3 linked regions of the Homo sapiens genome follow. The protein of the gene in region 3 interacts with the protein of the main gene of each other region in a pairwise test. Each region holds a gene or a part of one and is shown on either strand. Other genes may lie near its edges.

Region 1 (7,901 bases), on a different chromosome or scaffold from region 3:
CTACATCTGGATACCAGGAACAACTGCTAATGTAAGAGGTCAAAACATGCAATTTGTTGAAGTGTTCAAAATGATAAAAAGAAATATGTGATTAGTAAAAAAATTAAAAAAGACTGATGTGGGTTGAGAAGAACTGCAATAGGAATAAAGTGGTTCAGGATGATACAGATGGGAATATTTAAAGATAATATAGCTTTCTAGATGATAACTATAATAACAGCCAACATTTATTGAGCTCTTTCTGTATGCTAAGTGCTTTGTATATGTTATTTCATTTAATCTTCACAATCCCATGCGTGAATACTGTTATCCCCATTTCATTGACCAAATCAATGCTTAGTTACTTGCCTAAAGTCATATTGCTAAATCACAAGGACATAGTAGATCTAGATTTAAGCTTTCTATATAATACCTCTCACATTTAATTATAGGTTTAAGTGTTTATATTTTATCTTAAATATATGTTTTATTTTCAGCAGAAACTATATCTTTAAAAGATTAGAATGTCAGAAACAGAGTCAGAAAGGGAACCAGTAAAAGCTTATTAACATTTGATTGAGATTATTGTCACATCAAAAGACCAAAAAGAGTCTTATACAGTCCTTTAAAATTATGAGTTCTCAATGAAATGTTGACTTTATTGTTATTACTATAGCAAAGCATAGGCAAGTGTAGGCATTTTGAAATTGTGTGATCTAAGAACAGACCAGAATCTTATGTAAGCTGGTAATTTGGATCTGTAACAGTACTGATTAGGTTGGTGGAGTTTGGATGTATCTGATTCTTGAAATTGTGAAATTGCATGAGGGAGGAGAACCCGGAAAGTATGTCCTGAAAGCCAAAGGAGAGAATTTTAAGAGGACATCTTAGCAACCTCTTATCGAAAAAGAAATATAAGGAATTGGTACCCAACAGTGTCAGATGCTTCTGAAAGATTAAAGAGGATTGGAACTGAGAACCACCATTAGATTGTAGTGATTTGGGCAGTGGAAACCTTCGAGAGAAGAGTTTCACTATAGTTGAGGGATTAGAGGCCAGAAGTAGAATATTATACCTGAAAGAAATTTTAAATAGTCATCTAGATATCATTTTTATAGATAAAATATTTGAGTTTCAGAGAGATTAAATAATTTAAACTAAGTCGGTATCTCTAGACTGGTGATGATTTTGCCACCCAAGGGGCATTTGGCAATGTCTGGAGACATTTTTTATTGTCGCACCTGGGGAAGGGTGTGCTATTATTTAATAGCATCTAGTGGGTAGATGCTGTAAAATGTCCTGCAATATACAACAGTCTCCTGCCCCCACATACACACCCCAGAGAATTATCTGACCCAAAATGTCCATAATTCCAAGGCTGAGAAACCCCCGCCTAGGATTAGCACCCAACTGATTCTAAATCTAGTCTACTTGTAAGGAAGTAGAAATCGTGGATATAGACTATTCTTCAGTAGTGAGTAAGAAAGGGTGGCAGCTTCAAGACAGGGGTTTTTTGAAGTGTCTCTTTGAAGAAGCAAGCCTTGAGCATACCTCTAAGTCAAAGGAAGAAACCAGTATACAGTGAAAGACATTAAGGGTAAAAGTTACAGTACAACTGAAGAGGCTAAGCCTGGAGACAGAATCAACCATTAGGTAGTAGGCAGCCGTCTCTTGCTTTTCTTATATCAGGTTAAATTATTTTACTCCAAGATGTAATGAAGAAGGCCTATGTTAAAAATTGTCAGAGTAAATACATTTCTGAAATTAGAGAGTTTGACTAAAAAACTTGTCTTCTAAAACAAATAATTTAATGAAGTTATAAAGTTGATGTACAGCATCTACTTCATACAAACGCTAAAGAAAGTTAATCTTGTATAGTATTAAGTGCACGGACTGCCCTAGATTCAATTCCAAGCCTTTTCTCCCACTACTTATATGACCTTGAACAGATTTCTGAATCTCTCAGTGCCTTTTCTTCATCTATAAAACTGGGGTTAAATAAAGATATACTCATGTAAAGACTAAGGACAATGCCTGGGTTATAGTAAGTATTCAGTAAATACTTACTATTTAGTTATTAGCTATTTAGCATCAGCTATTAAATAGAAGTTCTATGCAGTAGTGGTTTATATTAATAATCCAGTGATGGCTTTGCCTGCAGAAGGTAGAGGTAGTTGAGTAGTTGAGATATTCTGTCTAACAAATAGCACCTTTTTTTGGGGTGGAGGTGGTCATTTGATTACATGACCTTCGGCCCCTCTAGTAAAGAGGTATGGTTGACTTACAATGCAACCTTTAGGGGAAAAGTCAGGAAGACTCGTTAAAATTATCTTTGTTTATAATATCAGGTTCTGCTTATTGCACATATTTTGTATTAAATACATGCTTTATGTAATTCAGATAAGTACATACCCAGCTTCCTCTTGAATATAATGTATATAGCTGTAAATGTCTGAAGTATGTAATATCAAGTATGTAATAGTATAGAACATATGTGAATTTGTACCTGATAAAGTATATCTTTGTCTCAACAAACTTAGACTATATCCACAGTGAAAAAAATTAAAATCACTTTTATCTTTCTATTATCAGCTCTAATAATGGACTTTAAGCAAAACTCTTCTGATACTAGCTTTCTCTGCTCATAAACCTCAGGTAAGTTTTCTTTGTGTATGTCTTCTTTTCAGATCAACAGAAACATTTAAAAAAGAAGATGATCTTGACAGTCTTATTAATGAAATACTTGAAGAGCCCAACTTGGACAAAAAACCCTCTGTAAGTCAAGTGTTATAAATATGTAGTAATTCTGTCATTATTTCAAGACATGTTTAGAATAGTCTTAAAGATGACACAAGTAGCTACCCATTATCTTTTGAATTCTGAGAAATACAATTACTTAAAGAAATTATTACACTTAAAGAGCAGTAGAAGCAGTAAAATATCAGAAACTCTCAGTATGTGTTTCCCTGTGCATTTCTCAGTAAGAATAACAAATTAGAAAAGCTGTTAGCATAGAAGTCAACTCACACATCAAGCTGGTCACTTGTATTTATTTGTAGTATCTAAGGACACTTTTCTAAAAGGCCAAAAACAAACAGCTTTCATTGTAGGAATGTGCTTAGCACCTCACATGCAATGCCATTGCTCTTATCCCATGAAGCAATGACTAAATTGTTAATATTTCAGTTTTTTAAATGTTTGTATGTCTATTTTAGCTGCATAAAAAGTTCAGAAAGTAATATAACAGCAACCTATATACTGAACATACCATGACAGCCACCCATATTAAACATATATTAATGTTTTGCCACATTTGCTTTACTGGACCTTTTTTTTTAAAAAGAAGTACAAATTAAAGATATAGTTTAAGACCTCTCTAAATCCTATTCTATTGCCTTCCTTCCCAAAGATAACCATTTATCCTTTCCATCCATACATTTATACTTTCATTACATATGTACATAACCATAAACAATTCTAACTGTGTACAGTAGTCCATTGTATAACTCTGCCACAGTTTATCCACTTCCCTGATGATGGACATTTAGATTGTGCTCAGTTGTTTGCTATTACAAATAGTGCTTCATCAGATACCTTTTTTTTAATCGGAGAAAAGGCATACAAATTTTGACATGTACACAGGGAAAACCAGTGATTACGCCTTCATTAGATATCTTTACATGGCTTCTTTTACCCATATACGGAAGTTTCTCTAGGGTGTATAAAGCTAGAAGAGGAATTCCTAGGTCATAAGGTGTGCTCATCTTCAACTTTTCTACCCATTGCCAAATTGTTTTCCAAAGTGACTTTATCACTTAACATTTTTCATACTGGGCAGTATATGAGAATTTATGTATTTTAATTTTTATCAGTATGGTGTGTGTCAAGCATTATCTGTTAGATTTAAAAGAAAGATACAAAAATAGAAGTCTAATTTACAAAGATCACAAAAAAATTTAAGAAATAACTATAGTACCAGGGTTTTGTTTTTTAAAGGATAGGGAAGATAAAAGCAAAACAGTGGACTGAAAATACCTAGGTAATGGTTGTGGTAAGAATATGGATAGGGACCACTTACATTTTTGTCACCCAGACTAAAAATCAAGTGACTAGTATAGATTTTAGAAAATTAAACTTTTTCAATTCACCTGAAGTAAATTAATAAGCACATGCCAAGTTGAATAATATGTAAACACAATAGCAATATTAAATACAGTCATTCCTTGGTATACTCAAGGGATTGGTTCCAGGACCCCCACATATACCAAAATCCATACATACTCAAGTTCCACAGTCAGCCTTACAGAACCCACCTTATGAAAAGTTGGCCCTCTGTACGTGGGGTTTCGCATGCCACAAATACTGTATTTTTGATCCTTGTTTGGTTGGAAAAATTCCACATATAAGTGGACTTGTGCAGTTGAAACGCATGTTGTTCAAGGGTCACCTGTACCCTGCAAATAGAATACTTCCTAAATACTGAGTAAGTGCATAAGCACTGAATAGTAATGCCAATTAGTAGTACTAATTAATGGTAGAAAAAAATTACATCATTTTGTTGCTCTTCATTAATCATCTGAGCAATTCATTGTTTATTAAGTACCAATAGGGTGCATATCTGTATATGAGGCGCTATCTTTTCAGTTAAGGTGTTTCAGAAGAAGATAAGTACTTCTCTGGTTTGGCTTTAAGATATACTAATTTGAAATAAAAGTAGCTCTTATAATCATGAAGAAGTAAATTTTTAATCATGATCTTTTCCTTTTTTAGTTATGTATTATGTCCAGTTTTCCAACCTTCAAAGGAGACAGCAGGTCTAAGTAAAACATTTATTGGGAAAAAAAAACATGTATTAACAAAAGAAACATAGATAAACAGATAGTCTATGCCAACGTTGTCATTAGAGGCTATATTATGCCCTGACAATACTACTCCCTTACCGCACCTCCTGCTCTCCCATTCTGTCGCATTTCTGAACTGTTCCCAGACCCACACAAGAAAGCCCAGGAACCAACAACAAACCTCAGAGTGTGCCAGCTTAGAGTCATAAGCCTGAGTCTGGATGGCACATGAAACATGCTCCCCAAACAGAAAGATTCGTGCATATTATTATTTTTCAAACATGTACCAAAATTTTTTCCATTTCTGCTTAACATCAAATAAGAGTTGAGAGACATAGTAAAACAATATTTTCGCCTCTATTAAATTTCCTCACCCACTATGTAAAATGAAGGCATGTCTCTGCATAGTTTAAATTGCCTTTTCTCCATCTCACTTCCTCTCCTTGGCGGTGGTCCTAGTGTGTGGTTGGTTTATGTTGTTTGGTACCATATACCAGTTAACACTTAATAAATGCTTGCTAATGATGATGATACTATGTAACCATATAGGAACTACTGTATGGTTGTGACTAGGTAGTTCTACATTTTCCTTGCACATTTATTGGTTGATGCCATTCCATTTGATCAAAATTAATATTCCTGAAGTTACACAGGAGCTTGGTTAATTTTAATTCATATGACGCACATTCACAGCCTTTAAAAATGAGTCTGAGGTTTTTTTCCTCCTCAATTGAATTTTTCTAGAATGAAGTTTTAAATAGCAGGTCCTTCATATTAAATCATTGAACTGTAATATTAACTGAAGAGTTATAAAGTGACTCTAAATCTTAGCATGCTAATAATGGCAATATATCAGTTTCCTAGCCTAAAAGTTAGTAGAGTAATTTGCACATTCCTTAGGGAGTTCTACTTCCCTTTTGCCTTTAAAAGGTTTTGATCATTGTTTTTATTTCAGAAACTTAAAAATGATGCCATGAAAATTTGTATTTAAGTCATTTAGAAAATATTCTTGTTATAAGGAATATTAGTTTTCATGTTACAGTTTTCTAAGTTACTCATGGCCTTTTATTGTTTTGCTTTTTTAACAGAAATTAAAATCTAAATCTTCAGGTAACACATCTGTCAGAGCTTCCATTGAAGGCCTTGGTAAAAGGTAAGTTGAGATTGCTTTGGTGAATTATACACACTATTGAGCAAACACTATGAGCATAGTCTAGTAGATTTTGTTACCATTTAAACAGCAGTGACATTGAACAACAAAGCATTGGTTGGCCTTCAGGAGAAAGACCAATAGCAATATCTTCAGTGTTCTTATGGTCTGTGACCCCCTTTGTGTAAAGGAAATTAAATGGGGGATTATTGCTATTGTAAATAATTTTCTGCCATTTAAAAAAAGTGTGAACAGTTTCTCAAAATTAATGTTCTGTTATATTCTTCAGTATTTACTTTGTCCCTTACATTATTTGGCAAACACATTTTTCTTTTACTCATTTTAATTCCTTGAGTGTTCCTGAATGTACAGGTTATATCCAATAAAGCAGTGATCCTACAATAAATATCTCTTCTTTGAAATGGTTGGCTTGCTAGGGAAAATAGACAATTTGATTACAAGAACATAAAGTCAATAAAACCAAAAATTTTTTTAACATGGCCAAATTAACTTCTCCTATTTTTTGTTATAACTTCATATTTTTGCATCTGTTGAACACATCTAGTTGCAGTCCGGTGTACCTTGGTGGAAGCTCTATTCCATGTGGGATTGGAACAAATATTTCATGGAGGTAGGTTGTCAGAAATGTATTATACTTTCTTACTAGGTTTTTTCCAAATGGATGCCCCATTGTTAAAATGTAGTTATCATCTTCACATCAATCTGTTTTATAAGGAGAGGTATTTTTATTAGCTAATCTAAGAATTCTTTGTTTTTTATTCTTGGGAGATAGCTATTGAAAGCTGTGATGTTAGGTACATATTATTCATTTTATGCCCTTTTCTAAGCCCCACTTGAAATGCCTGGATCACTCCAGTCCCAGCTTTGTTTCCACAGGACACAGGAGAGTGAACTTCCTTCCAGGCAGTGGAAGCAAAGTGGCCATGCAGATACATGATGCCTTACCCACACTGCCTTGGCCAATTAGCATGCAAAGCTACAGGTCTGCATTGCCCAAAACATTCTCAAGCGTAGTTGCTTGATTTTACATGTTTACATATTTCAAAAACAAAAACCTTATGTTCTTTGTCTCTTCCCTGCCCTTCCTGCCTCCACTTTCTCACTCAGTACCTCTTTCTGGGCAGTCTTATAGTCATGATGCCACCTACCCCAAACCCATATTAGCCCCATAGTCCTAGCACATTCCATTGGCATTTTCATAATGTGGGCAAACAGTTTGGCTTTAAGCAAACCCTACTCTCCTGCTGCTTTTGGTTCTATTTTTGGCAGAGGTCTACTTACCTAACTTACTTTATTAAAATACTTTTATCTAATTATTTCTAAAACACTTATTTTCTGTTAATTTTTTAAGAAAGAATGGCCTAAGTTATATGATTGCATGTTGACCACATTTCTGGAGGGCTAACTGTTGTATAGTCAAGTGTCACCAACAAGGATACATTCTGAGAAATATGTCATTAGTCATAAGTCATTATGACTTCCTCATGTACAAACATCATAGAGTGTACTTACACAAACCTAGATGATATAGCCTACTCCACACCTAGGCTAGGTGGTATACTAGCCTACTACATACTACTAGGCTATAAACCTGTGTAGCATGTAACCGCACTGAATACAGTAGGCAGTGGTAACACAATGGTAAATATTTGTGTATCTAAATATTAAAAAGGTACAGCAAAAATACATTGTAAAAGATTTTTCAAATGGTACAGCTGTATAGGGCACTTAGCATGGACAGAGCTTGCAGGACTGGAAGTTGCTCTGAGTGAGTGAATGAGTGGTGAGTGACTGTGAAAGCCTAGGATATTACACTAGTATAGACTTTATAAACACTGTAGCTTAGGCTACACTAAGTTTACTTTTAAATGTCTTTAATAATATTAACCTTAGCTTACTGAAACTTCATT
Region 2 (8,018 bases), on a different chromosome or scaffold from region 3:
CCAACCTGGCCAACATGGCAAAAACCCGTCTCTACTAAAAATATAAAAATATTAGCCGGGCTTGGTGGCAGGCACCTGTAATCTCAGCTACTCGGGAGGCTGAGGCAGGAGGATTGCTTGAACCTGGGAGACGGAGGTTGCAGTGAGCCAAGATCACACCACCGCACTCCAGCCTGGGCAACAGAGGGAGACTCTGTCTCGAAAAAAAATACAAAATCCCATCATGGTTATTTTTCAGATATCTTTGAAATGTTGCTTTTTGAACAGAAGAGTTTTCAGACACACAGAGACAGAGCAGGGAGATCCTTAGAAGTCATCTAATAACACCCGCATTCTCCAGACGCCTCCAAAGATAACATTTGCAAGGAAGTTACACTATCTACATCCTTTATAGGCTTCTTGAGATAGCTCTGAAGACGGATGTAACAAAACTGAATCTTAATAATACTTACAAAGAGGAAGAAGGTGCCAAGCTTCACAGCATCTGTCCATGCAACCATACACGGGGACCAGGTAGATTCCCCAGTTCCCCCAAGTAAGAAGCAGCTCTCAATTCATTCCTTCATTCAACAGACTTTTTCTTTTTTTTTTTTTTTTTTTATCTTTTTTGAGACACAGTCTGTCTCCAGTCTGTTGCCCAATGGAGTGCAGTGGCACAATTCCAGCTCACTGCAACCTCCACTCTCTGGGTTCAAGCGATTCTCGTACCTCAGCTTCCCAAGTAGCTGGGACTACAGGCATGCGCCACTATGCCCAGCTAATTTTTGTATTTTTAGTAGAGATAGGGTTTTGCCATGTTGGCCAGGCTGGTCTCCAACTTCTGATCTCAAGTGATCCGGCTGCCTTGAGCCTCCCAAAGTGCCAGGACTATAGGCATGAGCCACCATGCCCAGCCTCAAGACATTTTTGAGGGCCTTCTGTGTACCAAACACTATTCTAGGTACTTGGGACACATCAGTGAACAAAAGAAAGATCACTACCCACGTGACACCTGCATTTTAGGCAATAGTTAAGTGGCATCTAATAAAATAGAAGAATATCTGTACATTTTAATAGACTATATAGGGCATAATAGTCTAGGTACAAAACTTGATAGTACCTTGGAGATCATTAAGCCATTGGTTCTCAAACTTGGGTATGCTTCAGTACTACCCACAGGATTTGTTAAAACTCAGAATGCTGGGCCCCATCCTCTAATATGAAAGCTAGAGGGTACATTCCCTATTTGGAAAACATCTTTCATACATCCAAATGCCAATGTTTTCCTTAAAGACTTTTTAATCATGAGGGTCAGGTTTAGTCTCAAAGGAACTCAATGTTTTTTTAAGTCCATGAACTAGAAGTACATACACCAAATCATAAATAACAGTGATTGGACTAGTAATAATATTACAACATTTTTGTGCTAACTGTATTTTCTAGAATTTTTACAATAACCATGAATTCCTTTTGTAATAAGAAAAGGGAAGCAAAAATGTTAATTTATTTTAGAAATTAGTTACGATGTTTATTAAAAAGACTTTCAATTAGAAAACTATTTTAAAAATCATCAGTTAATATACTGCATAAATTAATACTGAAAGATTTTTTTCCCTAGTACCTAATTCAAATAACTTATTTTAGCATTTCAGTTTAAACCTGTTTGGATTAAGGATTAATACCCGTGAAGGAAAAAAATCTGATTTTAACAAATAAGATAATAAATACAAAGCTATGATCATTTCGATAGCTGCATAAAAACCACATTTACTATTGTTCTACCTGGCAATTATTTATGTCTATTACTTTTCAACAAATGAATGGAAGTGATTGATTCTAATTACTGCAAATAAATAAATTTAAAAATGGTTCAATTATGTTTTTTGAAAGAAAAATTTAAAATGTCTAAGTTTTGGGAAATTTAGGGCACATCCTTGATGTATGCATAGTCACATGGTCATATTCCTGGGAATACCCAGGTAAGACACCACCCCAAACCTGCCCCATATCCACCACCTTCAAGGATATTCCAATCTAAGAAATAATGCCGTTATTACTAAAGACCACGTTCCAGAGATAGGACTAGAGTTTAAAACATAATCAGCTAGAGGACAGTGACTAAAACAAAATCAACCAGGTTAGTAAATCAACTGTCTTTAAAATGATAGATTTACTCTCTTACCATTCGACAAAAAATCCAGAACACCTCTTGGAAGTGCAGACTGTTTAAGTACCAGTCACTTTTAAGGAGGGCGAAAAGGACCTACCTGTATGTGTTACATATAATTTACAGCCAATTTTCTCAAAATTAGCCCCTAAAACCATAACTCCATATACTAATACTATCTATACTGAAGACTTACTAGGTGTCCACAATATACCAAACTACTTTACATGTATCCTATTTAATCTCCTAACGGCCTTATAAGGTAACTACCACTAAAATAACCATTTTACAGATGAAGAAACTTAAGCGCAAAGTTATTAATTTGTCCGAAGTCACACAGGTAAGAAGTTAAAGATCCTGGATACACAGATATCCAAGCTATAATACTTAAACGAGACGCTTAAACCTTCTCTTGATCATGGTTTTGCTGTTTGAATTATAAATTTTTCACATGTTAAGAAATCTGAAGAAAAATTCTCTTCTGCCTTGGGATCCTGTTGATCTGTGACCTTATCCCCAACCCTGTGCTCTCTGAAACATGTGCTGTGTCCACTCAGGGTTAAATGGATTAAGGGCGGTGCAAGATGTGCTTTGTTAAACAGATGCTTGAAGGCAGCATGCTCGTTAAGAGTCATCACCACTCCCTAATCTTAAGTACCCAGGGACACAAACACTGCGGAAGGCCGCAGGGTCCTCTGCCTAGGAAAACCAGAGACCTTTGTTCACTTGTTTATCAGCTGACCTTCCCTCCACTACTGTCCTATGACCCTGCCAAATCCCCCTCTGCGAGAAACACCCAAGAATGATCAATAAAAAAAAAAAAAAAAGAAATCTGAACTAAGGTTTCTTGCCAGTATTTGAACAATATAAAAAAAGATGAAAACTGGGAAATAATACAGGTACTTTAACAAATCTTTGTAACTCTAAAATCCCATGAATCTGCAGTGTTACATTTTGAGCACAGACGGCTGACAACTTTTCCACGAGCACGGCCACTTCAAGGTTACGGTTAAAATTATCTACGGAAATACTGCATTAAATTACACAAGTATTCTATTAAAAGGAGGAGAAAGAAGGTTTTTATCTGTTTTTACCTGCTTGGGGGTTGTTTGTTTTGGGTTTTGTTTTTTGGGTTGTTGGGTTTTCCAACCAGCGAGCTAGAGTGAACGAAAAGGCAGGAAGATAATAATCTAACCCTTTCCTACTCCTTCCGCATACAAGAGTAAAAGCTTAGGTGCAAAGACAAGCGGCGCGAACGTGCCGGGTTCGGCCTTTACTTGGGGTGAGGGCTGACCAGACGCCACTGCTTCCCGCCCCAGCGAAAACCCCTCGGGGACCCACAGCCAGGGCACTGGGCGGCAGCAGGCCCCGCGCTAGTCCCGGCGGCGCTGAACGCGAGGGAGAGGGGATGGGGAGCCCCGCGGGCCCCTTACCGAGCTCGGTGCCCCGATTGTGCGCGGACATGGCGCGGGCAGCTCCGGAGCTGCCGGCTGGTAGGCGCCCGCCTCTGCGCCGCGCCCGGCCCTTCCTCCTTCCCGCCAGCTGGAGCGCTCGCCCCGCCCCTGCCCGCTCCCGGGGCGGAGTCGCGGGCCCGGGCTACGAGGTCTGTACCCTAGGAATATTGCTCCGCAAGGAAATCTCGCTGCTCCCCTCCCCCGTCTTCTCCACGAGGTACCGAACCGGAGCGCTAAGTAGCTCCCGGAAATAATGCTACCAACACCCTTTAAAAAATACTGAAGTTGCCAATTGCACGTAATAAAAATATTCCTAGAAACTTTTAACTGTAAGATTATATAACAAGAAGGAAGAAGATCCAAGTGCAGAGCTCTGCAACTTAAGGTCTGAAATGTCAGCAGGGATCCCATATCCTTGTTAGGGAAACCAAGGTGCAATCAAGGGCCCCGGGGCACACTGACTTTTCTAATCTACACATCATGAAAAGAAGCAGCTATGTGGCCTGAAGAAGGCAAGGGCTTAGGAGTCAGAAGACCTGGTTTCTTAGCCAAGCTCGGGCAATAATTAAATGTGTGACCCTGGGCAAATTAACTGCTTTTCCGAGCTTCATTTTTCTCATCTGTAAAAGAAGACCTTGACAATTTCTTGGTTCTTCAAAATACTATGATTCTATAAAGGTAAAATGCTTCAGCCTGATTTCTCTGTGACCAAGAGGTTAAAATCGTCGAGTCACTCCACAATCTCAATATAGTTAACTTATCTGTACTCACGTTTAGAGGCACCTCTGCTATGAAAACAGTACAGTTAGTTATGATTTGTCTACCATGAGCCAGTTATTGTGCTAGGTGCTTTCATACATCATATATAGATGTATGATAGCATTTGAGTCTCTGAACAATCCTGCCAATAATGTATTTTATCTCCATTGCTGTAACTTTAGACATCAAAGTTCTGAATAGAAAGGCATCCTGGTATAGGGGAAATACAGTGAGCTCAAAATGAGCTGAACCCATTAATATACCAGCTCTTCCATTTAATAAATGTAACTTGGCAGTTCTGGAAATAATAGTCTGTCTACTTACCTGTAAAGTGGAGATGATCAAAATATGTTCACCTTGCAAAGCTGTTGAATGTATGCAAGGCACCTAGTACATAACATGGCATACAGTAGATACTTAAAAAATGGAAGCTGTTAATGTTATTGTCAAGTTCACACAGTAATTACTGAGCTGTTTTAAATAGGAATAGTAATATTTGTATACTCCTCTACATTGAGCTTTCAGCCTTGTCCACACACAGCCACTGTTGAATGTTTCGGATGTGTGTAGATCTTACTCATACATACTATAGCACTTTTCTTTTTTATATTAACCTTGAAAAAGAGAAAAGCAGGCCCTGAAAGCCTGGAGCTGGCCTGAAACTCACAACTGGACCATGGTTTTCCCTGGTTAAACGTATACAATTTCACAGCACAGCATCAGCCAAGGCCATTGTGACCACAATGAATCAACAAAAACATAATCATAATCATGTCTGATAATAGAAAACCATGAATATTGTTCAAATAGCCCCTATCCTAGCTATTATGACTTCTTTACCAATCAGTTCTAGCTTCACTCCATTCCTATGTTTTAGATAAGAATTAAGATGCACTACTATCACCAGTTCCTACCATCATCCAGTCCAGATCCTTCCTTGAACTTTCCCCAAATCACCTACGACAGGCCCAAATCCTATGTAGTTTCTAACATCCTCTTACTGAGACACCTCACATTAGGTGCCCATGGCAAGCATTCTCCCTTGTTACAATGTCAATAAACACAACTTTGTCCACTTGTAGGTGTGTTACTGGTGGTCTCTGGCTGGAGATCATTCACATCTCTAGAAGATACAAAGGCAATACATGAAATTCTATTTTTAGAAGTAAACACAACTCCAAACCAGATTCCATACCATTCATTACATAAATGTTTGTTTGTTTGTTTTTAAATTGTGATATCCTAAATTAGTTGAAAAATCAGAATTAGGGCAGCCTCTTAAAGCAATGTTTTAGCAATGTATCAGTCAAGAATTTCTCAAGGACTTTTTCTAAAATGGACCTGTTGAATGTATTAATCTCAAATTAATCTCTGCAGTTTAAAAGTATGTTAATTTGGCAACATTAGGAGAGACAGCAGGGATAGTATGCAAAAAATGAGTTTCTTTCACAGAGAAATGTTCCTATATTTCATTTTGTGAAGATTCCTTTTACATTTATTGCCTTATGAAACTTCTGAAGTATCCCTAAGGCAAGTCCCCTCAAAGAAAGAGCTATAGACCACTACATGGGAATCACCCAAGAGCTTTTTCTAAAGCAGTTCTGGGCTTCCTCACAGCCCTACTCAATCAGAGTATCTAGGACCCTGGAATCTGTAATTTTAATATTTCTTCAAACAATGTTTATGCAAACTAAACGTAAAGAACCACCAATGAGAAGCAGAGGAAAATAAACTATGCATGCCAATCTGGAGCCATAGCCCAAACTGACTCTTACAAGAGTAAAATTGCTTTTAAAGTATTACATGTTGTATTTTTTAAGCCATGTAAATTTTGCATGCTATTCCTATTCATTGATGTTTTTCAATGTAAATTTTAAACTGCCAAATAAATTACCTAATTATCCTCCCACCCTCACTCCTCCTTTAATTAAAATTAAAGCTCTAGGAATATGTAATATTTATCTTGAAGCTTCTAAGAACCTACCAGTCCTGGGAGATAGGAGTAAAACAAATTTTAAGGTCCAAAGGGCATAGATCATTTGTGTTTGGTTCATCATATGTAGGATCTAGTACAGTAGTTGGCAATTAGTAGACTATAAATATTTGTTAGATGAATGAGTGTATATTGCTGTCTTTGCTACTTTTCTTATACTGCCTACTGTTTTATCCAGTCAAATTTCATTTGATATAGTCTCTACTCCTATGATTTCTAAGAGCAATTATTCACAAGTTCATTAGGTAAATAACCACTTAGACTACAAACTGTCAGCCAGCATTTCTAGGTCAGATGGAGAAAAGTGTAGGAGCAGGGAGGACTATGAAAAATTGTGAATATTAGAGTCAAAATATTTTAGAACTGGAGGGAGACTAATAGAACATCCAATTCCTAGTTCATGGTAAAATAAAAAAAAAATAAGAATTATACTGAGTGTTTTATGAAGCTAAATTTATTCAATTTAAAGAACACTCCTTCATTCTGAGACTACGTTGTTCACTACCAATTTGAATTTTAAAATGTCGTTTTATAAAGATCGTGGCGTTAGATAATTATTTTTTCTTTTTTAATAGCCTCAGTTGGCTAGAAGCCGACCATTCCATCTCCTCTCCCCCATTTTGAAGTCTATTGGCCACAGAATCCTAAAGCTTGGGAATCACTGATACAATATATAATACTCGCTAATATTAAGTGCTTCCTGTGAATTAAGTCCTTTCCATAAAGTATTTGGTATTTCATATTTATGAGATTTTTCCTGAAAAAAATCTGTGAGAACTCTTTTCTCCCTGTACAGATAAACTGAGGCTAAGAGAGATTTGCCTGTAAGTGCTAGACGATTGCTTAAAACCTGGCAATATATAATCATATAACAATATATAACCTTAGACTACACACTATTCCCTACTATCTCTTGGAAGCTAAACTTATTAGACAAACCATTAAACCTCTCTGAAATTCAGGTTTTCCATATATGCAACGGAGACAATTACCTATCTCATTGGATTACTGGGAGAGATTAAAAAGTGACACACGTGTTAACATTAAAACCTAACGTAAGGCACTTATATCATTTCCATACTCGTCCTTAAACTAAAATCAGTTACCTTCCACTTGACCATGTTCTATTCTCTCATTAAAGTGATTCAATCTATAAAGTATTATTATTGTTCATTAGCTATCATTTAGACGCATACTTGGGCCTTGTTTCCAAAGGTAAATTTGTTAGATGCCTCCGAGAACTCTACTGATCTAGTCACCTCAGTCTAAGTGACACTATAGCACACTTGCAATTAAGCATTTCTATATTAAATAGATAACCAATGAAAAGCTAGGCCCCCTCTTATCTGAGAATGTTCTTGCTTTAACAATGTTTTCATGGGTAACCCCCCAGTGTAGCAGACAGACATGCACAGTAACATATAGTAACCTAATAAGAACCTCTTTTTAAGTTGTTAATCCCCTAGGTGTAAAGCATAAGCAAGGTAGCTAGTTGAGAAATATTTTCCATTGGTCTGCTTTTTCAATGCATCTTGTTGTTGCTCCCTTCTGAAAAATTGCATCCATTTTTCCCCAACCTTGGTCTCAAAGAAAAGGCAGCTAAATACTTCCATGGAATTTGAGCAACTACTAAAAAATGTAATCTATAATTTGTTATAAATTATGG
Region 3 (7,901 bases):
GCATGCACAACAGCAACAAGTTATTCGAAAGGTAAGAAGCTCTTTTCCCCAGGACCATAATTTGCATTTGTTTAATGAGTACTGTTTGTGACCCAAAAAGGTCTTTATTGAGTGTCTGTGATTGATCTTAGTTTCTTACATATTGGATGCACAGATAGAAGTAAAAAATGAAATGAAATTAAGCCAAGTGTTACACATTTTTAATAAAAAATTTCTCACTAGCTAAAGATGGTTATTCCATACTCGCAGATAATGTCTCAGTAGCTTTTAGTAAATGATCTTTTGCCTAATATAACAATTTTGAAATACTTTATTTTTATGAGCATAATGAATACACTACCAATTTCTTTTAAAATTAGAAAACATAGCCTTACTGGTTTTTTTTGTTGGTTTTTATTATAAAAGGCATAGTTAAGGTCTCAGAAGATAAATGACAAATATTTTCAAATCAGTTGACCAAATTATGAGTTCAGAAAATGATTTCTCAATGTATGCTGTTATTAGTCTGTGGAGAAAAGCAGTTAACATAGTGTTGTAAAATGAATTTTAGATTTTAGTATCTGAGCTGAAAATTTAATAGAGGAGTTGGAATCCCTCCGTTTCATTGTGTCCTTGTGATTTAATCTTTGCATATCAGCTTTCATTTGCTAATAAGAGATGAAACATAGTAATTAAGGCAGCTATTTTTTGCTCATGAGTAAACTAGACTCTGAGTTTAAGCAACAGGTTTTTTGAGGGGGAGCTTCTGATTGCTCCTGCTTAGAAGGCCCTTGAACTAAAAATAGGGTTGTGACTGACAGGATCAGGGTCTAATGGAGAAGGCTTTAAAGCAGAGATGAGTAGCAGTTGCAGCCTGTAGCCTAGTCAACATAGATTTACTGTGTTTTTTTTTTTTTTTAAAGTGTGCAAGTGAAGGTTGAATGTAGTAGAATTCAGTTCTAAGTGTTTAGTCCAAGTACATGTATTTTTAAAACTTTCATAGGCAACTCTAATGTGCAGCCTGGTTAAGAATAGTTGACTTAAAACAATAGATGTACCTTAACCTGTACTTTATGGAAACAGTCTGTTAATACTTTTCAGAAACAGTGTTTTGGTAATATATTAGCTTACAACACTCTATAATGTGTAGATTTTTTTTTTCCTGAAAGCAAGAATAGTTGATAAAATAGCTATGTGACATTTCAGTTTTTCATGAATGCTAACATTCTGTCTGCTAAAATTTGAGTTTGAATCTCTGTGCTTTGGTGAGTGGTGTTTATATAATGCATGACGACAACCAATAATTTTTACTCTGCTCCTGGAATTTACTCTCAGCCATGGATTAATTGAGAATAATATGTGTGATGGTCCAGTTATAGGACTTAACAGGTACAGAAGTTACATGCTGTAAGTGTTAGACGCCTTATCTTCTTCAGATAAAAATCCCTGTGTAATGTGATCCAGAAGTGTCAACAGAGAACTGAGATGTAGAATAAATTTAATTTAGCCAGTGATTGATGTTCTTATAAATTCAACCTGAAGTTTTTAGAATATTCCCATAACATTTATTAATTAAAAAAACTGAAGTCGAATTGTATCATAGATATCTTTAAGCTTACATATTGTCTTTTCACTAGCTGTTAACATTTTCTCTTGAATAAGCAATTTAGTGTCTACCCTCCTTTTCATAGACTCTAATACTATGAACCTCTTCAGTTAAAATGTCTATATTTTTTTCCATTGAAAAATTGATATTGATTATAAGGCAGACCATTTAGTAGCCTTTTTTGTAAGGAAATGCTCACTGTTAGAACCTGTACAATAGATATTTTTAATTGATAATACTCTATTTAATCATGTAACTTCACAAAGCTTATAAGCACACTTTCTGCACAGAGTCTAAATAGTGCTCCAATCAATTTTGGCTTTTATTCATAGCTTCTCAGTGATATACTACTTTTTATAGTTTACCATATGATCCTCACCTTTTATAGCACCTTTAGGAAGTTGGCAATGTAATTTCAAGACATACTCTAAGCCAGTAGTTCTTATACTCACATCAGTATCCAGTCTACACTAAAGGGTTTTCTAAACATACTGGATCCCATGATCCGAATTTCAGATTCAGCAGTTCTGTAGTAGGATTGAGAATTTAACATATCCAAAGTTCCTAAGCTAGTGTTCCTGGTATTATGGGCCACACTTTAAGAAACACTACTATAAGATATGAAAGCTTGTTTGTGTGTCTTCACAATTTTCTCTCTAAATTTAATTAAATATTAAAGATTAGCTTCCCTTGTCAGTAGGAAGTTTTGACAGATAGGTCTCAACATTAATCTTTATAGAATCAGACAATAAACTTTTATCTTTTTCTTTTTTTTCTTTGGTTGCAAGCAGAGTTTGTTTGTTTAGAAATGGAGCATCACGATGTTGCCCAGGCTGGTCTCCGACTCCTGGGCTGAAGCAATCCTCCTACCTAGGCTTCCCAAAGTGTTGGGATTACAGGCATGAGCCACCACGCCTGGCCCATCACCTTTTTCTAACTCGAAAATTTCATGATTATTCTGAAGGAACTGACGGTTTATTTTGCCTCTGTTACCTGGTATAAGAAAAATGTTGCCTATCAAACACCAGTTTTCTCTTTTGCACCGTAGTGTAATCTTCAAAGTACTTGAAGTAAAAAAGTTGGGATCTATAGCCAGGCAAGTTTGGTACTTATCACCAAAACAAATAAACTGCCTGGAAGCTGGTATGTTTCTTTAGACGGTGGTTCTACGGTGCGTCTGGATTTCAAGTGTTAATATGTGAGAAATTATGAGACTTAGAGGACAAATTATTATATGAATTTGTTTTATAAGACTTGGTAATAGAGACAAAAGAATTAACAGTATAATGAAATAATTTTTGTTTATATTTTTTTCAGATTGTCCAGTTTATTGTTACATTGGTTCAAAATAACCAACTTGTGAGTTTAAAACGTAAAAGGTAAGTTTTTATGATAAAGTATTATGTCCTGTATATAGGCAGTCACACTTTTTAGTGTTTAACCATGAGTAGCCTACACTTGCTGAGTATGTGCTTGTTGTCCAAAAAGAACAATTCTCCTTTGTTAAATTATACTCTTAAAATCTCTAGAGTAGTATTATTTTTTAGTTTTATCATTCTGCTGATGTTTGTGAGAGATAAGGGTAGCCTAAATGGTCACTTTATAGACATACATACAGTTAATACAAAATATTCACTTTTCATTCACATTATTAAAGTAGCATTAGAAGGCCTGAGTGAAGGAAATTTTTAAAAAGAGGCCATATGTTAAAAAAAAAATGAAAATTTGTTTTACTTGACCTCTCTTAGTTTAAGCCACTCATAGTCTTTTTAAATCTGTATCTCAGCCATGGGTTGTGATACCTGTAAATGTCAGTAGCTACTATTGTCACAGCTAAAACATTAGAAGAATAATGGACAAAAGGAATAGTTGGAAGGAAAAAATGATCTGTAACACTAAGATTTGGGAAAAACTTGATTATGATCAGAGCTTTATGGCCTTAACTACTTCCACTAATTAGTTCTTATGATATTATCTATTTTTTTCTATATAAATACAGTTCATAGAGTTGTGTGGTTCGGTAAGCAATGAAGTATAACTGGAGAGAATAGCTTATTATAACAAAAAGAGTGTAGAAAAGTGGAGAACTGAAAGTCCTAGATATTCTCATCCAGCAGTTTCTGTTCCTAAGATGTAATCATTTTTAAGTTTATTTATTGTTACTGAAATTTTTTATTCATTATTAAGTGAGTGTGCATGTGTGTGTGTTTGGGTAAGTTAATAGAGGGAGTTTAAATTCATTGTATGTTTGCTTCACTGAACTGCATATTCTTCTGGTTTTCAGGCCTCTACTTCTAAACACTAATGGAGCCCAAAAGAAGAACCTGTTTCAGCACATAGTCAAAGAACCAACTGATAATCATCATCATAAAGTAATTTTTTAGTTAGGGTCTATTTTATATTTATTGTCTCAGACTAAATTTTATTATGGCAGTGTTTCATGCATTCAAAGAAGTGTGGTGAATAACAATTCAAGTGTTCATCCCACAGCTTTGTTAAATTGTGACATTTTTTATTATTTGCTTTAGATTATTGTAAGAAATAAATCATCACAAATCTAGTTGTTCCAGTTGCCTGTTTCTAAGTTTTTCTCTCTCCCCGTCTCTTGTCTCCCCTCTTTACTCTTCCTCGCTTACCCTAGAGGTAATCACTATCTTGAATTAGTATCTATCATTCTCATGGCCATTTTGTATATGTGAATCCAGGAGCAGTACTTGGTATTATTTTGCATATATCTAAACTTCATATAAATAATATCATTTTGTGCATATCATTTTATAGTGTGGCTTTTTTTTAACTTGATGTTGCTTTTGAGATTTATTAAACATAGCGATTTAGTTTATTCATTTCTTTTTTTTTTTTTTTTTTTTTTTTTTTTTGAGATGGGATTTCACTCTGTCACCCAGCCTGGAGTGCAGTGGTATGATCTTGGCTCACTGCAGCCTCCACCTCCTGGGCCCAGGCAATTCTCCTGCCTCAGTCTCCTGAGTAGCTGGGACTATAGGTGTGTGCCACCACACTTGGATAATTTTTGTATATTTTGTAGTGATGGATTTTCATCATGTCACCTTTGCTGGTCTCGAACTCCCAGACTCAAGCCATCTGCCTGCCTCAGCCTCCCAAAGTTTTGGGATTACAGGCATGAGCCACTGCACCTGGCTTACTCATTTCAATATTATATAATAATTGAATATTTTGAAAATGTAATTATTATAATTTAATGTGATTATATATTCTTACATTGGTTATTCTATTTTCAACTTTTTTTTATTAATGTTCACCAACTAGAATGCTTTTTACTCCAGCAATTTAAATTTTTACCTTCATTTTGTCACAGGCTTTCTGGATAATTTGTCAGATTTCTATCCAGTGGCAAATTAGTCCAGTCCAAAGTCCAGATCTTTTTTATTATCTTTTTGTTACTACTTTCAAACTTCAGAATTCAAAATAGTTCTTTAGATTTATTATTAAAGTAATAAGATTTTTGTTCTTGGACAATCAAACTTAACCTCACATCTGATTTCTTTTCCCTCTACTGTTAGAAAATAATCAAGCATACCTATTTTGTTTTTAGGATTGAAGGCTCATGTAAGTGGATGAAGATTTTTATATTTTTAACTGGGTTTATATATTTTAAAGTACTTCACATCCTTTGCCTCTTTATTATCTAGTATTGGAATTTATAGTTTTTTGCATTTTAATAATGACTTTAGTTTGCTTTACAGGATTGAACTTAGTTTGATTAATACAGCTGTAGCCTGAATATATCTGTAGCTTAAGTTTAAAAAAAAATCATTGCTAAAAAGCCAAGCTAACATGTAACTGAGAGAGGTGAAGTGCGTTTTTTTCTCTTAGTGAAGGTATTTAATGAATAAGAATAAAACACATTTCAAAACAGAGCATCTTGAGCTGAAACAATATCCCTATCAGCATGGTGGCTGTCTGGTCGTGCTTGAAGTTTCTAGTGAAGTCCTAAGACTTTTTTACTCTTTAGGCATAAAAAATACTTTAAAATTTGAAGATCTTTCCATAGAAACATTTTTAGGGGTGTCATCTTCAGGGTCCCTTACAGTAAAAGAAGTAGTAAAGTGTAGAATGCAGTTAATATACCTCATACCTCTGTGAATTGGTGCTGCTAGTACCAATTATTATGTAAGTTCCGTAAGAGCAGAGAACACACCTGTTTTGCATACCCCGAGATTCAGTAAATAGTAGTTGCCTAGTTATTTTGTAGATGATATCTTGTTTGGTAGTCAATGATTTTGATTTTTAGATATATTTTTCTCTCTGAATTTTTAGGTTCCACACAGTAGGACTGAAGGTTTAAAGCCAAGGGAGAGGATTTCAGATGACATCATTATTTATGATGTTACTGATGATAATGCAGATGAAGAAAATATCCCAGTTATTCCAGAAACTAATGAGGATGTTATATCTGATCCCTCCAAGTAAGGAGTTTGTGAGATAAAATGTATGAAAATATTGATTACTTTTCTTATTACAGAGTAAAATTCAAAACTACTTTGTTCTTTGAAAAATAATAATCTTTCTCACATTTGGATTATTAAACTTGATAATTAAGCTAAATTATTCAACCAGATAAAACCTCACCTCCTCTTCCTCTCAAAGGAGGTATACTGAAAACTAATTGATTTTTAATTTTTATTTTGGAGTTAAGCACTTCTCATTCAATCTTTATGGTCTTCTATACTATGAAGTACCAATATTGTGATTAAGCTGCTCGCTCAAGAAATTTAAGCCTTTCAGTATGTGGTATGGGGAGAGAGTTTCCATTTAGAATGAATGGATAGTATGAACTTATTAAATTTGAAAATGTAATAGGTTCCTTCTTTTATTGCTGATTTAGCTGTAGCCAGTACCCTGATATTGTCATCGTTGAAGATGACAATGAAGATGAGTATGCACCTGTCATTCAGAGTGGAGAGCAGAATGAACCAGCCAGAGAATCCCTAAGTTCAGGCAGTGATGGCAGCAGCCCTCTCATGTCTAGTGCTGTCCAGCTAAATGGCTCATCCAGTCTGACCTCAGAAGATCCAGTGACCATGATGGATTCCATTTTGAATGATAACATCAATCTTTTGGGAAAGTGAGTGCTTATCTAGATGTTGTCTAAAATTATTTGCTTTCTTTGTTCACTTCACATGTTCTGTTTCTCTTTGAGTAATCTTCCTTTCAGATGATGAACCCACATAGTCCACCTTTCTCTGTTTTGGTCAGTGTTGAGTTCTGTAATGAATGGGATTTAATCATCCCAAGAATAGTCTTGGTATTTTCCTGGTAGTTTCTCAGATTCCTTTGATGATATACTTCCTTTGAGTGTACATACAGTGTTTGTGATTATATATATTTGTGTATCCAAACTACAGAATAATGTAATTTCTAGTAAGGTACTTATAACAAAGAAAACTTAATAGTAATAATCAGTAATGAGATTAAACATTTTATATAGTATAGAGGAAAAAGGTAAATCAGACTGTTCTGCAGGGTGTGTTTTTCTGTAAATACTAAAGTTTTCTGTAAAGGCTATGAATTTTCAGTTAACCAGATTTTCAAGAATTCCTACTCTAGAATAAGATCTCTTAAGATTAAGAACCGGTAAGGATGCAGCAGCTGCTAGAAATATCTTGCCTAGCCAAGTTGTAATGGTGATTTTTAAACATAAAAACAAGGATATCTAATATTTGATTAAAAAAATTTTTTTTTCCTTAGGGTTGAGCTGTTGGATTATCTTGACAGTATTGACTGCAGTTTAGAGGACTTCCAGGCCATGCTATCAGGAAGACAATTTAGCATAGACCCAGATCTCCTGGTTGATGTAGGTACTTTGGGTAATCTTTGCTATACTGGTAGTTTGTGTGTTTATGTATATTATTTAAAAACCAGTACGTCATTTTGTTTTGTATTCTACAGGTTGTTTTTGCATTTCTTTTTTAAATTAATAATTTTGTTTATCAGAAAGAATGAAAAAATAGGTTTGGGACATTGAAGGAGTATGATTACCACCTGCCTTGGAGTAGCAATTGAACTAATTTCCCTGTGAGAACATATCAGATCTTTTCAGCAGTACTGTTAAGTTCATGTCTTGTCTGGACTTGTTGCTCTTTTCTGTTTTGCTCTAGAATGAATTGTCAGTAAATAGAAATTTGTGGAAATTAGTAATAGAGGTACTTAGCTAGGAAATAGCATGGAGACACCTTTTGATACTTTGGGGATTAACATTTTTTACTCAAATATGTTTTAATATATTTGCCTTATTTTTTACATTTTTATATTTTGAGTTACAAGGTTCCCCTGC

The links.
Region 1: the proteins of HSF2 (region 3) and CFAP418 interact in a two-hybrid assay, tested with the Homo sapiens proteins (one study listed by IntAct).
Region 2: the proteins of HSF2 (region 3) and DERA interact in binary tests that used the Homo sapiens proteins (3 or more experiments, as listed by UniProt).

What each region holds. Positions count from the first base shown.
Region 1 is NC_000008.11:95,258,540-95,266,440, reverse strand, and holds part of CFAP418 (cilia- and flagella-associated protein 418), read left to right. Parts: intron 1-2,666; coding exon 2,667-2,754; intron 2,755-5,908; coding exon 5,909-5,973; intron 5,974-6,535; coding exon 6,536-6,601; intron 6,602-7,901. UniProt on the Homo sapiens protein: May be involved in photoreceptor outer segment disk morphogenesis.
Region 2 is NC_000012.12:15,906,976-15,914,993, reverse strand, and holds the start of DERA (deoxyribose-phosphate aldolase), read right to left. Parts: upstream 3,663-8,018; 5' UTR 3,611-3,662; coding exon 3,580-3,610; exon of another isoform or gene 1-3,579. UniProt on the Homo sapiens protein: Catalyzes a reversible aldol reaction between acetaldehyde and D-glyceraldehyde 3-phosphate to generate 2-deoxy-D-ribose 5-phosphate. Participates in stress granule (SG) assembly.
Region 3 is NC_000006.12:122,416,266-122,424,166, forward strand, and holds part of HSF2 (heat shock factor protein 2), read left to right. Parts: coding exon 1-31; intron 32-2,902; coding exon 2,903-2,964; intron 2,965-3,869; coding exon 3,870-3,957; coding exon of another isoform or gene 3,958-3,969; exon of another isoform or gene 3,970-4,145; intron 4,146-5,884; coding exon 5,885-6,033; intron 6,034-6,452; coding exon 6,453-6,692; intron 6,693-7,315; coding exon 7,316-7,421; intron 7,422-7,901. UniProt on the Homo sapiens protein: DNA-binding protein that specifically binds heat shock promoter elements (HSE) and activates transcription. In higher eukaryotes, HSF is unable to bind to the HSE unless the cells are heat shocked.